3 linked regions of the Homo sapiens genome follow. The protein of the gene in region 1 interacts with the protein of each later gene in a pairwise test. Each region holds a gene or a part of one and is shown in the gene's direction. Other genes may lie near its edges.

Evidence for each region.
Region 2: the proteins of MORN2 (region 1) and MPP3 interact in a two-hybrid assay, tested with the Homo sapiens proteins (one large-scale study listed by IntAct).
Region 3: the proteins of MORN2 (region 1) and RSPH1 interact in a two-hybrid assay, tested with the Homo sapiens proteins (one large-scale study listed by BioGRID and IntAct).

What each region holds. Positions count from the first base shown.
Region 1 is NC_000002.12:38,878,861-38,883,244, forward strand, and holds the end of MORN2 (MORN repeat-containing protein 2), read left to right. Parts: intron 1-1,318; coding exon 1,319-1,369; intron 1,370-1,739; coding exon 1,740-1,846; intron 1,847-2,581; coding exon 2,582-2,718; intron 2,719-3,552; coding exon 3,553-3,655; 3' UTR 3,656-3,849; downstream 3,850-4,384. UniProt on the Homo sapiens protein: Might have a role in spermatogenesis.
Region 2 is NC_000017.11:43,819,605-43,823,254, reverse strand, and holds part of MPP3 (MAGUK p55 subfamily member 3), read left to right. Parts: intron 1-2,196; coding exon 2,197-2,393; exon of another isoform or gene 2,394-2,513; intron 2,514-3,650. UniProt on the Homo sapiens protein: Participates in cell spreading through the phosphoinositide-3-kinase (PI3K) pathway by connecting CADM1 to DLG1 and the regulatory subunit of phosphoinositide-3-kinase (PI3K). Stabilizes HTR2C at the plasma membrane and prevents its desensitization.
Region 3 is NC_000021.9:42,475,684-42,479,333, reverse strand, and holds part of RSPH1 (radial spoke head 1 homolog), read left to right. Parts: intron 1-1,889; coding exon 1,890-2,043; intron 2,044-3,286; coding exon 3,287-3,436; intron 3,437-3,650.

The sequences.
Region 1 (4,384 bases):
AATTTTTAAATTCCCTTGCCCCACCCGTAAAGACTGATTCAGTAGATGTGGGGTAGAGAGAAGAAACTTAGAAGCATCTCAGGTGATTCTGAAGGATGGGCCTGCATACCGTCTCTACATAAGTTTTCTTCAGTATCGGAAAATACAGTTTCTAGTTTTAGTCCAGTAAGTGTCCAGGGATCTGAGGCCCAGAGTCCCCCTCAGTCTTGCGGTCCTCTTTCTTCCTTTTTCACTTGGTCTCCATTCCAGTCTCATTCTGTGTGGACCTACCAGCCCTTCCCCACTTGCTATCTTTATTTTCCATTTCTTCCTATTGCCAATTTAAAGATTCCTCACTCCACCTTACCTCTGTGGGACAATCAGTAAATCATATGGGCTACCAAAGAGAAATAAAAACATATCCACACAAAAATCTGTACACCAATTTTTTTTTTACTCCTAGGAAGCTGTATGTTTTGAAAATGTACATCAGTGTTTATAGCAGTATTATTCATAATGGCCTCAAACTGGAAACAACCTACATGTCCATGAACTGATGAATGAATAAACAAAATATGCTGTTTCTGTACAACATATTTATACAATATACTTGGCTATAAAAAGGAATGAAGTACTGATACACGATGCAACATGGATGAGCCTTGGAAACATTAAGTGAAACGAGCCAGACATAAAGGACCACATATTATATGATTTCATTTATAAGAAATGTCCAGAATAGGCAAATCCCTGAGGCAGAAAGTAGATTAGTGGTTGCCAGGGGTTTGGGGTTGTGGGGTGAGGGGTGTTTGAGGGGAATCATAATGGGTAACTGCTAATGTGTACAGAGTTTCTTTCTGGGATGATTAAAATATTCTAAAATTAGATTGTGATGATAGTTGCACAACTCTGAATATACTAAAAAAATCAAATTGTATTTTTTTAAAGGGTAGATTTTGTGGTGTGTGAATTATATATTAATAAAGCTATCATAATAAATAAATTTTAAAAGAGATCATCTAGGCAAAATTGTTTATTTCCCCGGGACCCTACATTAGACAATGGAAATACCAAGTAATCATGATATGATGTGATCTTGAGAAGTAAGTCCATTTGGATAGTGCTGAAAGCACATTGGGTATAGGTCTTATGACATAAGAATGTTTACACTTGGTTGGGTGTGGTGGCTCACATTTGCATCCCCAGCACTTTGGGAGGCTGAGGCGGGAGGATCGCTTGAGCCCAGGAGTTTGAGACTGGCCTGGGCAATGTAGTGAAACCTTGCCTCTATCGAAAAAAAAGTAAACTTATGTCACTGTTTTTAAATCTTTTAAAACAGCTTCAGAAGTGTATAAGATCAGCTTTATCTTTCCAAATGGAGACAAGTATGGTAAGTATACGCTTCAATTACTTTTTCTGTATAGAAAATTAAATAGCTTAGGAATAAAAAACTGAGACTGTTAAATTTTATAAAACTACTATTAGGATATTAACTTTATTAACTAAAATAACAGAAATCCTAATAGATAAAGAGCTTTTAAAATCAAAATTCCAATGCCTTGGAAACCTATGGGATCTGTCAATCTTCCTGGCCCTTGAGTCTCAATTGTTACAAGATGTTCTGTGTCCATGGATTTTCTCATCTCTGGTCTCACTGGTTTCAGTGCTAGGGAGCCAAAGAAACCCATGAGGTGTAGTTGCGATTAGGCCCAGACATAACTATTCTCATTTATAATCTTCAGTTTTTCTCCTCTGTTTAGATGGTGACTGTACAAGAACATCTTCTGGAATCTACGAGAGAAATGGAATAGGTATTCATACCACTCCTAATGGGATTGTCTACACAGGAAGCTGGAAAGATGACAAGGTATTATTGTTGTTTTTAATATTGGCAGTGGATAAATAACCCTGTAGGTTTAGTGATTCCAGGCATTTCACCATTAATCAAAAACTCCTATAATGAGTAGACTATATAATAAAAATAACAAATGATCATATTAACATATATTAACTTATGAGTAATATTAAACTCACTGTAGAAAGCTAATCATCGTTACTTTCTTTCTCATCTCCTATTCATTGAGTAAAGCTGAATCCGTTACATAATTTTCTCATTTAATCCTCATAATAACCTCATGAGATAGGTACCATTAATACTCTATTTTACAAATGAGGAAAATCAGGCTCAGGTTTCTTGCCCAGCTAGTAAATGATAAAACAGGAAAGTATACCCTGGTCTGCTCAAATCCAAATTTGAATTCTTAACAACTACTTTGTACTGGTTTCCTGAACTAACTAAACTGGTTGCCCTTTAAGATTTCTGATACATTCAGGGTATCTTGAGGACCCCTATTTATCTTCATCATGGACCCCCTGATGTTCAAATGTCCCAGATCCAGAACATTTAATTTACTGGGCTTCACAGATAGATACAGATGAAGGAAAATGATAAAAATGTTGTCTTTATACTATGGAAATAAAGGACAATACAAAGTTGGTTAAGTAATAATTAGCAGATGATAGACTTATATTTGTACATTTTTTAAAGGTTCTTGGGAAACTGAAGATTAGTTTCTAAGGTAATTTCCTTTGTTACAAACAGATGAATGGTTTTGGAAGACTTGAGCATTTTTCAGGAGCAGTATATGAAGGACAATTTAAGGATAATATGTTTCATGGACTGGGGACTTACACATTCCCAAATGGGGCAAAGTATACTGGAAATTTCAATGAAAATAGGTAAGCTTAAAATAAAAAAAAATCACTGCATTTCTAAAAGATTATTTTCTGGTATGTTTGCTTAAATACTTATTTATTTATTTATTTATTGAGACAGAGTCTCCCTCTGTCATCCAGGCAGGAGTGCAGTGGAGTGATCTCGGCTCACTGCAACCTCTGCCTCCCGGGTTCAAGCGATTCTCTTGCCTCAGCCACCCAAGTAGCTGGGTCCACAGATGTGCACTACCACACCCAGCTATTTTTTGTATTTTCAGTAGGGACGGGGTTTCACCGTGTTGAGCAGGCTGGTCTAGAACTCCTGACCTCAAGTGATCTGCCTGCCTCGGCCTCTCAGAGTGCTGAGATTACAGGCGTGAGCCACTGTGCCCAGCTGCTTAAATACTATATTTAGTTAATTCTAAATATTCTTTTATGATATAGTTTCTAAAAATTGTTGGAGGCCAGGTGCGGTGGCACAGCACCTCAAACATCATTGATAGTGAAAAAATATTTGTTGAATAAGTGAAGTAATTAAGCTAGATAACCGATATAAACTTTTCATTTTTTTAACTCATTGTTTTGGTTTTGTGTGAACCTAGATTATGTGATCCTAAAATCTTGGACACCAAATAATTGTTTGTTTTTGTTTGGAATAGTATGTGGTTTTTTTTTTTTTTTTTTTGGTTTGTTTGTTTTTTTGGTAGGATATGAAAGCAGGATGCTGGGTTTAAAAGCAAAGCTTGAAAGTAGAGGATATAATCTTCAGACATAGTATATATTATGCTAGAAAATCTTATATCTGGACTGTAAATTATTCATCTTTGTTAATGGAAAACTTATTTTCTACTATTGCAGGGTGGAAGGTGAAGGGGAATATACTGATATCCAAGGACTAGAATGGAGTGGTAACTTTCATTTTACAGCTGCTCCAGACCTGAAATTAAAGCTTCACATGTAGATGTGATGTTAAATTAAAGTTGAAATGTAGTAATTGAAGCTTTTAGTTGTAAGGAAAGCAACTTAATCTGTTATTTGAAATGACTTCATACACTACCCCTATAAGTTTGCCAATAAAACCATCACCTGCTTACACCTTTTTGAACTTTATATTCATTGTCTTACAATTAGTTTAAAATAAATGACATGATTCAATTCAGTCTGCTTATTATAATAACTATGGCAGAAGCATCCAAATCTTGGCAAAGTTGATTTCCAATCCTCTGTTTGAGTTTTGTCATTTTTTTTTTTTTTTTCTAGTTTGTGCTTGTGTGTCCTGGTCAACATCCGACCTCTTTAAAAAAAAAACAACTTTTTTTTTTAGGCTGTAATACATTTTATTCATTTCTTATTATTTTCTAACTTTTATTTTAGGTTCAGGCGTACATGTGCAGGTTTGTTATACAGGTAAACTCATGTCACAGTGTTTGTTATACAGATTATTTTGTCCCCTAGGTACTAAGCATAGTACCAATAGTTATTTTTTCTGATCCTCTCCCTCCTCCCAGCCACCATCCTCAGGTAGCCCCAGTGTCTGTTGTTCCTTTCTTTGTGTCCACAAGTTCTCATCATTTAGCTCCCACTTATAAGTGAGAACATTCGGTATTTGGTTTTCTGTTCCCGTTCTGTTAGTTTGCTAAGGATAATGAACACAATTTTAAGTGTACAATACATTATTGTTGACTATAGG
Region 2 (3,650 bases), on another chromosome or scaffold:
GGGAGGTGGGTTAAGCCTATGTTCTGAATGGCCTCGAATGCCTTGTTAAGGGTTTTGGCATAATCCTTGCTTAGTGTGGGGCCTCTTAGAAGCTGACCCTGAGACAAGGATTGAATGCAAATGGTTTATTTGGGAAGTGGCCCCAGGAAATACCAGTACAGGACTGGGAAAGGGAAGACAGCCAATCTGACTAAGGGTGTGTTATCAAGCAGGTTACCACTATGGGCAGCTGGAGCTTAGTCCTGCTGGGAACTTGGGGAACTACTTCTTCCCCTGTAGAACACACGCCTCCATCATCCCACCCAGGGGCCCTGGGAGCTGGGCGATCTATATACCAACTCCTGCCAGGCTGCACCCGGGGGATTAATTCCTAGCAACTTCTGCCTGCTGGACTAGAGATGAGTAGGTTCCAGTGGCCAGAGAAAGTAAGTCCTTAGGCAAAGAGATGCAGGTGCTGGCAGCTGGAAGTCAGCCCAGGCTGCACTGAATGGTCCAGCCCTGGGGCATATGGGAGGGCATCCCACAGCCCAAGAGATAATCCCATAGGTTCTAATAAGCTCTTTTTTTTTTTTTTTTAGGATGGGAGTGGTGCAGTTATATTTGTGTTTTAGAAAGCTCCGTGAGGCAGCCACGGGGAGGAGGGTGGAGTGGGTAGAGGTTGGAGGCAGGGAGGCCTGGTAGAAGGCTCTTGTAAAAGCCCAGGTGAGACGTTAAGACCTGAACTGTGAGATGGTGGTTGATGAGATAGAGAGGAGGGCATCACTTTGATTTCATAGTAGAGTTTCCTGGCAGCCAAGGCAAAAAGGAGAGCATAATGAATTACATACTGTTGAGCAGAGAATGGAAGGAAGCATGCCAGTTTTTCAAGACATTCCCATACCTGCCTCTCAGTACTTAATGCATGAAAGAAGAAACATTACAGCATCTAGCACAGAGGAGATGTCAGTCGATACTTTGAAGAATGTGGATTTGTAATGGACTACGTCTTCAATGACAGTTTTTTACAGCAAGTGAAGAAATAATCTTTATATAGCTGTTTCTTATTTGTGCTCTTTGGTTAAATCCCAGGGCATAATATTTCCTCTTACCTGGTGGAAAGTGATTCTTCCTAGGACAAGCGAATGTGGTCCGCACATGCAACTTTGAGGGTTCTGACTTGAGGAAACCTCTTTGAGGAAGAGAACTTGGTTTTCCTAAAGGACAAAATGAGTAGCCTGTCCCCCAGCCTGTCCTTCTTGAATATTTCTTCTTGATCCAGATGCTTGATTTGGGCTGGCCACTTAAGATTACATTCTTCTGAGTGCTTAGGACCCTGGTAACATCTGTGGCTGGTTAAGGGCATCTGTCCCCACAACATATGCCAGAAAGTTCTTACTGTTGTCCAGTGGAATCTTTTCTGGTTGGCATACAAAGGAATAGAGTTTGTATCTGTCTGAGGAAGACCCCTGATTGCTTTTTTTTTCCTGTTTGCCACTGAAGTGATTGGGCCCTAATGGTCTGAAAATAGAAATAAATAAAGTTAATCCATGCCACTAAATTATCGAAGAGAACAAGGAAGTGTGAAAAATGCTGTGTCCTCACACCATCTTCTCCAGAGAGGGTGACTCTAGAGCAGAGGGGGGAATTAGGGCTTGGCCGAGTCTATGGCAGACGAGGCAGGATTGAGCCGTAAGAGCTGTGGGTGTCAATTACCCACTGAAAAGTGATGGTGAGGAGTCAGTAACAGTAGTTTTGTTGATATTTGTGTTCTTACCCAAACATCTAGATTACTTATATAACAGATGGCTGCTGCCTTCCGTCAGCGCAGTTGGCGTATCAAAAATAACACTTGAGTTAGAAATTGTGCTTGCCTTTACTTTTTGTTCCCAGGATTAGTTGTTGCTGTGTGTATGCTAAGAGGCTGTTATGAGGACAGCTGGTCAAGTAAATAAGGAAATATTTAGGTAGGAAAGAGACATTCAGTCATGGGGCTTATTAATTTTCTGATTCTTGATGGACTTCCTGACTATAGTATCCCAAATGGTTGAAGAACAGTTAAGAACATACGTGCAGTGTATTTCCAAGTAGCTTTCTATTTGAAAGGCCACTTGGTCCTCCTAAGTGTGGATGGTCGTTGTCATGTGGCCTTTGATGTGACAATGACCTGTCTGTGCTCACTTGGGGAAGGGCCGCCTCACCAGAGCCCTCCTTGTGCAGGTGTTCATGCGCGCCCTCTTCCACTACAACCCTCGGGAGGACCGGGCCATCCCTTGCCAGGAGGCGGGCCTGCCCTTCCAGCGCAGGCAGGTCCTGGAGGTGGTGAGCCAGGACGACCCCACGTGGTGGCAGGCCAAGCGAGTCGGGGACACCAACCTTCGAGCCGGCCTCATCCCCTCCAAGGGGTTCCAGGAGAGGTGGGTCTGGGGTATGTTGTGAAGGGCTGGTTCCAGAGTGGCAGAGGCACAGGTACATGGCAGACCCCCAAGTCTCTGCCCTCACAGCCAGAGGGGCCTGCTGAGCATTGTTCCCCCAAGGTAAGTACCAGTTGCACTTGTGTTTGGTCTTTTCCCATAACTAGTGATGATGGTTATTTGAGATTTAAAGGAATCTATGGAAATTTATGTTATTAAGTTAATGTGTGTGTGTGTGTGTGTGTGTGTGTGTGTGTGTATTTTTTTTTTTTTTGAGACAGAGTCTCCCTCTGTCACCCAGGCTGGAGTGCAGTGGCGAATCTTAGCTCACTGCAACCTCCACCTCCCGGGTTCAAGCAATTCTCCCGCCTCAGCCTCCTGAGTAGCTGAGATTACAGGCGTGCACCACCATGCCTGGCTAATTTTTGTATTTTTAGTAGAGACAGGGTTTGGCCAGGCTGGTCTCAAACTCCTGGCCTCAAGTGATCCACCTGCCTTGACCTCCCAAAGTGCTAGGATTACAGGCATGAGCCACTGGATCCAGCCTAAGTTAATGTATATTTTATAATGCATGCTCAGAGAATGCTGATAAACAAAATATAAAAATACAGAAGAGAGGCTGGGCATGGTGATGACTCACGCCTGTAATCCCAGCACTTTGGGAAGCCGAGGCAGAAGGTTCCCTTGGGCCCAGGAGTTCAAGACCAGCCTAGGCAACATAGTAAGACCTTGTCTCTACAAAAAATAAAAAATTAGCTGGGCATGGTTGCACACACCTGTAGTCCCAGCTACTCGGGAGGCTGGGGTGGGAGGATCAGTTGAGCCCAAAAAGGTCAAGGCTTCAGTGAGCTGTTATCACACCACTGCACTCCAGCCTGAGTAAGAGTGAGACCCTGACTCAAAAAACAAAACAAAACAAAACAAAAAAACAGAAAAAAACTGAAGAGGAGGACTATGAAAGGAAATTCCCCACGTCTCACCCTTATCTAAACTGCATAGTTTGTTTCCTTACTGTGCTTTTTATGTGAGTGTTGCATACAGAATTTGGGGTCTTGCTTTTTTTTTTTTTAAACATTTTTGGCGTGAGTATTTTCCATATTATAGCATCGTTTTTGTAGTGTGATTTTAGTGGCTGTATACTAACTCATCAGGAGCTGTGCCATTCATTCCTAGGCGGCAGGTATTTAGGATGAATTGAGCTGGCCTTGTGCTGGCATCTTGCGGGCTGCTGTGAATCCAGGGTTTCTGCCCTGGAGGAGC
Region 3 (3,650 bases), on another chromosome or scaffold:
CCCATGAAATAATGCAGCAACAACCTGAGGGCTTTGTGGAAGGCCTCCCACTGTGCTGTGGGGATGGATTAGGATGGTGGTGGAACAGAAGGGCCTCCGTGTTCTCTCTCCCTAGTAAGGGGAATGTATCCCTTCTAGAGTAGGGCTTGCCAAGCTGCAGCCCACGGCTCACTCCCTGTTTCTTTTTAAATTATGGTTTTATATGTACGTTTATAGAGTTTGAAATTTGCCATTTTAAAGCATGCTTTCAGTGGCATTCAGTACGTTCAGTGTTGTGCAGCTGTGAGAATGATGCATTTCTGGAGCTTGTCCGTTATCCCAGACAGAAACTCTGTACCTATTAAGCAACAACTCCCCATTCGACCTCCCCCAGCCCCTGATAGCTTTTAATCTACTTTCTTTCTCTATGAATTTGCCTATTCTAGATGTCGCATATAGATGAATTCATTCTGTATTTGTCCTTTTGTGTCTGGCTTCTTTCATTTAGCACGACGTTTTCAAGGTTCTTGCTTATCCATTTGTCTGTTGATGGACAATTGAGTTGCTTCCACATTTTAGCTATTATGAATAATGCTGCAGTGAACATTGGTGTGCAAGCATCTGGTCGAATCTCTGTTTTCAGTTCCTTTGGTTATATACCGAGGAGTGGAATTGCTGGGTCATATGGTGATGCTGTTTCGCTTTTTGAAGAACTGTCAAATGTTTTCTACAGTAGCTGCAGCATTTTACGTTCCCACCAGCAATGTGAAAGGGTTCCACCTCTTGGTTTTATACATAAAGTGGCGTGCAGTTCCCAAACTAGTGCTGTCAGCTTCACCTGGGAATCTGTTAGGAATGCAGCTTATTGGACGCTATCCCAGACCTGCCGAATCTGAAACTCTGGGGGTGGGGCTAGCAATCTGTCTTTTAATGCTTTCTGGGTGATTCTGATCTAAGTCAAGTTTGAGGACCCTGTCCTGCAGCATTGGTGTCACCCTTCATGGGTGGCCATATTCAAACACTCTGAGACCAAAATAGAGAGTAATTGATTTCCCAGTGACTCAGTGGAAGAGGCAGGTGTCTGCCCCTCTCTGTCATCGGTATTATCACCTATGTGGCAGCGAAGTGTTCCATAGTCATAGTGCTGATGCTCAGATCTTTGGAATTTTGTGATAGTCACAAAACTGAGAAGTAGGCAAATATGCTTGGCAAAATTGGCACATGTTGGCTGCTCACCATTGTCGGAATTGTACATTTTTTATTACAAAGTGTTCCATGTTCAGACTTGATGAACTCTCATTCTGCTTTCCTTGAATTTTATTTTTCCCCATAATCCTTGACACTTGAGCTTTTGCGTTTATGCAAATCCATATCATATGGACATCTTAGGAACTTCTTAGGCCTAAGCCTAAAACAAATGGCTGTTTCTTTTATTATTTATATAAAGAATAATATAAATAATTATGTTTCTACTAAGCTCAATAGACATATAATTATATAATACACGATTTTTTATATTAGAGTTGCAAAATGTGGCCGAACAATTGAAAAGACCACTTACTCCTGGTCACTCAGTTCTGGCCACTTAGTCCTGGCCATGTCTTAGCTATTGCAGGCGACTGCGACATGCTCATCTGAAAGCCTTTTGTGGCACCCATTATAAAGCTCGCTGGCCCAGCATTGCTCTGGAGACTTTATTCCTCACCCTGGCTCTTTCAAGATCCATTCTCAACCCTGAGATTATACCATGGATAGTCAGCAACTGGTCTGATTCCTGAGTGACGTCCTAAAAAGGCTGAAACACAAGCCAAAACCTGTCTTTCAAAACTTGTCCTTCCTCCCTCACTTTTAATATTCCAGACCAAGATGACACAAATGTTGGTAAATGTACATTTTTGCACTTAAAATAGGAAAGAGGAGAAGAGGAAGAGGAGGAAGAATTAGTAACTGTTGTTCCAAAATGGAAAGCTACCCAAATCACTGAATTGGCCCTGTGGACACCAACTCTCCCCAAAAAGCCGACCTCTACGGATGGACCTGGCCAAGACGCTCCAGGAGCTGAGAGTGTGGGGCACCCCCGGGCTGTGGGGTGGAGGGGGCAGAGGGTGTGGGGCACCCCCGGGCTGTGGGACAGAGGGTGTGGGGCATCCCCGGGCTGTGGGGTGGAGGGGTCAGAGGGTGTGGGGCATCCCCGGGCTGTGGGGTGGAGGGGGCAGAGGGTGTGGGGCATCCCCGGGCTGTGGAGTGGAGGGGGCAGAGGGTGTGGGGCATCCCCGGGCTGTGGGGTGGAGGGGGCAGAGGGTGTGGGGCACCCCCGGGCTGTGGGACAGAGGGTGTGGGGCATCCCCCGGGCTGTGGGACAGAGGGTGTGGGGCATCCCCAGGCTGTGGGATGGAGGGTGTGGGCGCCTTTGGGCTGTGGGAGTTGTGGACATCCTGTTTTCAGGCCAGGTGTGGTTGGACTCTCTGAAAATCAGATGCTGGGTCAGTTGAGTGTGCGGGATGTTATTAGGGAGAGCCTTTGGGATTGGAGGACACTCCCGGAGAGCGGAGGGGAGAGGAAAGAAACAGAGTTGATTGGACAGAGGCGGAGGTGTGGCCTCCACAACCTTGCTTCATTCCATGGGGAGCACTGTGGCGTCTCGGGGACCCTTATCCCCTCACCTAGGTCAGTGAGTGAATGTGGGTGTGACCCCGGGCTGGCACTGACAGCAGCTGAGGGGACAGCCCTTCCCTGAAGAAGGGTCCGTGTGGCACCTCCATGTCCAACCCAGTGGTCTTTCTGGAAGTCCTTAATGTGCTGGGGAAAGTTGAAGGTGGCTACCCCGGGTGAGATCCCTTCCATGGCAAGCGGAGGAAAGCCAACTCCGATTGGCCTCCGTGAAAGAATACTCATGCTGCTAAGAATTTCTTGGCTCATGTGACTGGGAAGCTCCGGGACAGCCCCCAGAATGGCCGGGCAGCCTCTGCCCTCTGTCCCAGCTCTCCTCTCTGCTGGCTCCCCTGGCTGGCACTCTCAGGAACCCCAGGGGACTTCTCTTTCTCAAGAGTCTCATCAACACCCTCAGGAATGAAAGTTATCAGACTACCTGCTCCCATCCCCAAGCCACTGACTACAGTGGGGACTGGGCTGCTCCCCTGGCCAGGCCTAGGCTGGGCTGGGTGGATGTTGAGATGGGGAACATGAGGTGCTGCCAGTGGGAGGGGGAGGGTGGGGGCACGGCAGCCCAGGGGACAGCTGCCCTGCACAGGTCTGCAGGCTCCATTTTTCCCAGGAACTCAGGCTTCTGACTTGTGTTTTATCTCAGGTGCAGGAGAACCCGGGGAGGAGGCCCAGGCTCTGCTGGAGGGCTTCGAGGGTGAGATGGACATGAGGCCTGGAGATGAAGATGCAGACGTCCTCCGGGAAGAGAGCCGGGAGTATGACCAGGAGGAGTTCCGCTATGACATGGATGAGGGTGAGGTCCCTGCGCAGGGAAGTGGGGCGAGGGCCCGCACTTAGGGGCCACGAACAGTGGGATTCCCCTTCCCTTCACCAAGGCCTGCCTTCAGCTGGGCCCCAGGGACTCGAGGAAGGCTTAGGGGGCCCCCTGTGAGCGCTCACTGGAGCCATCTCAGAACGTTGCTCCCTGGCAGGCCCTCCTGCAAGCCTGGCTGCAGTGGGAGAGGCCT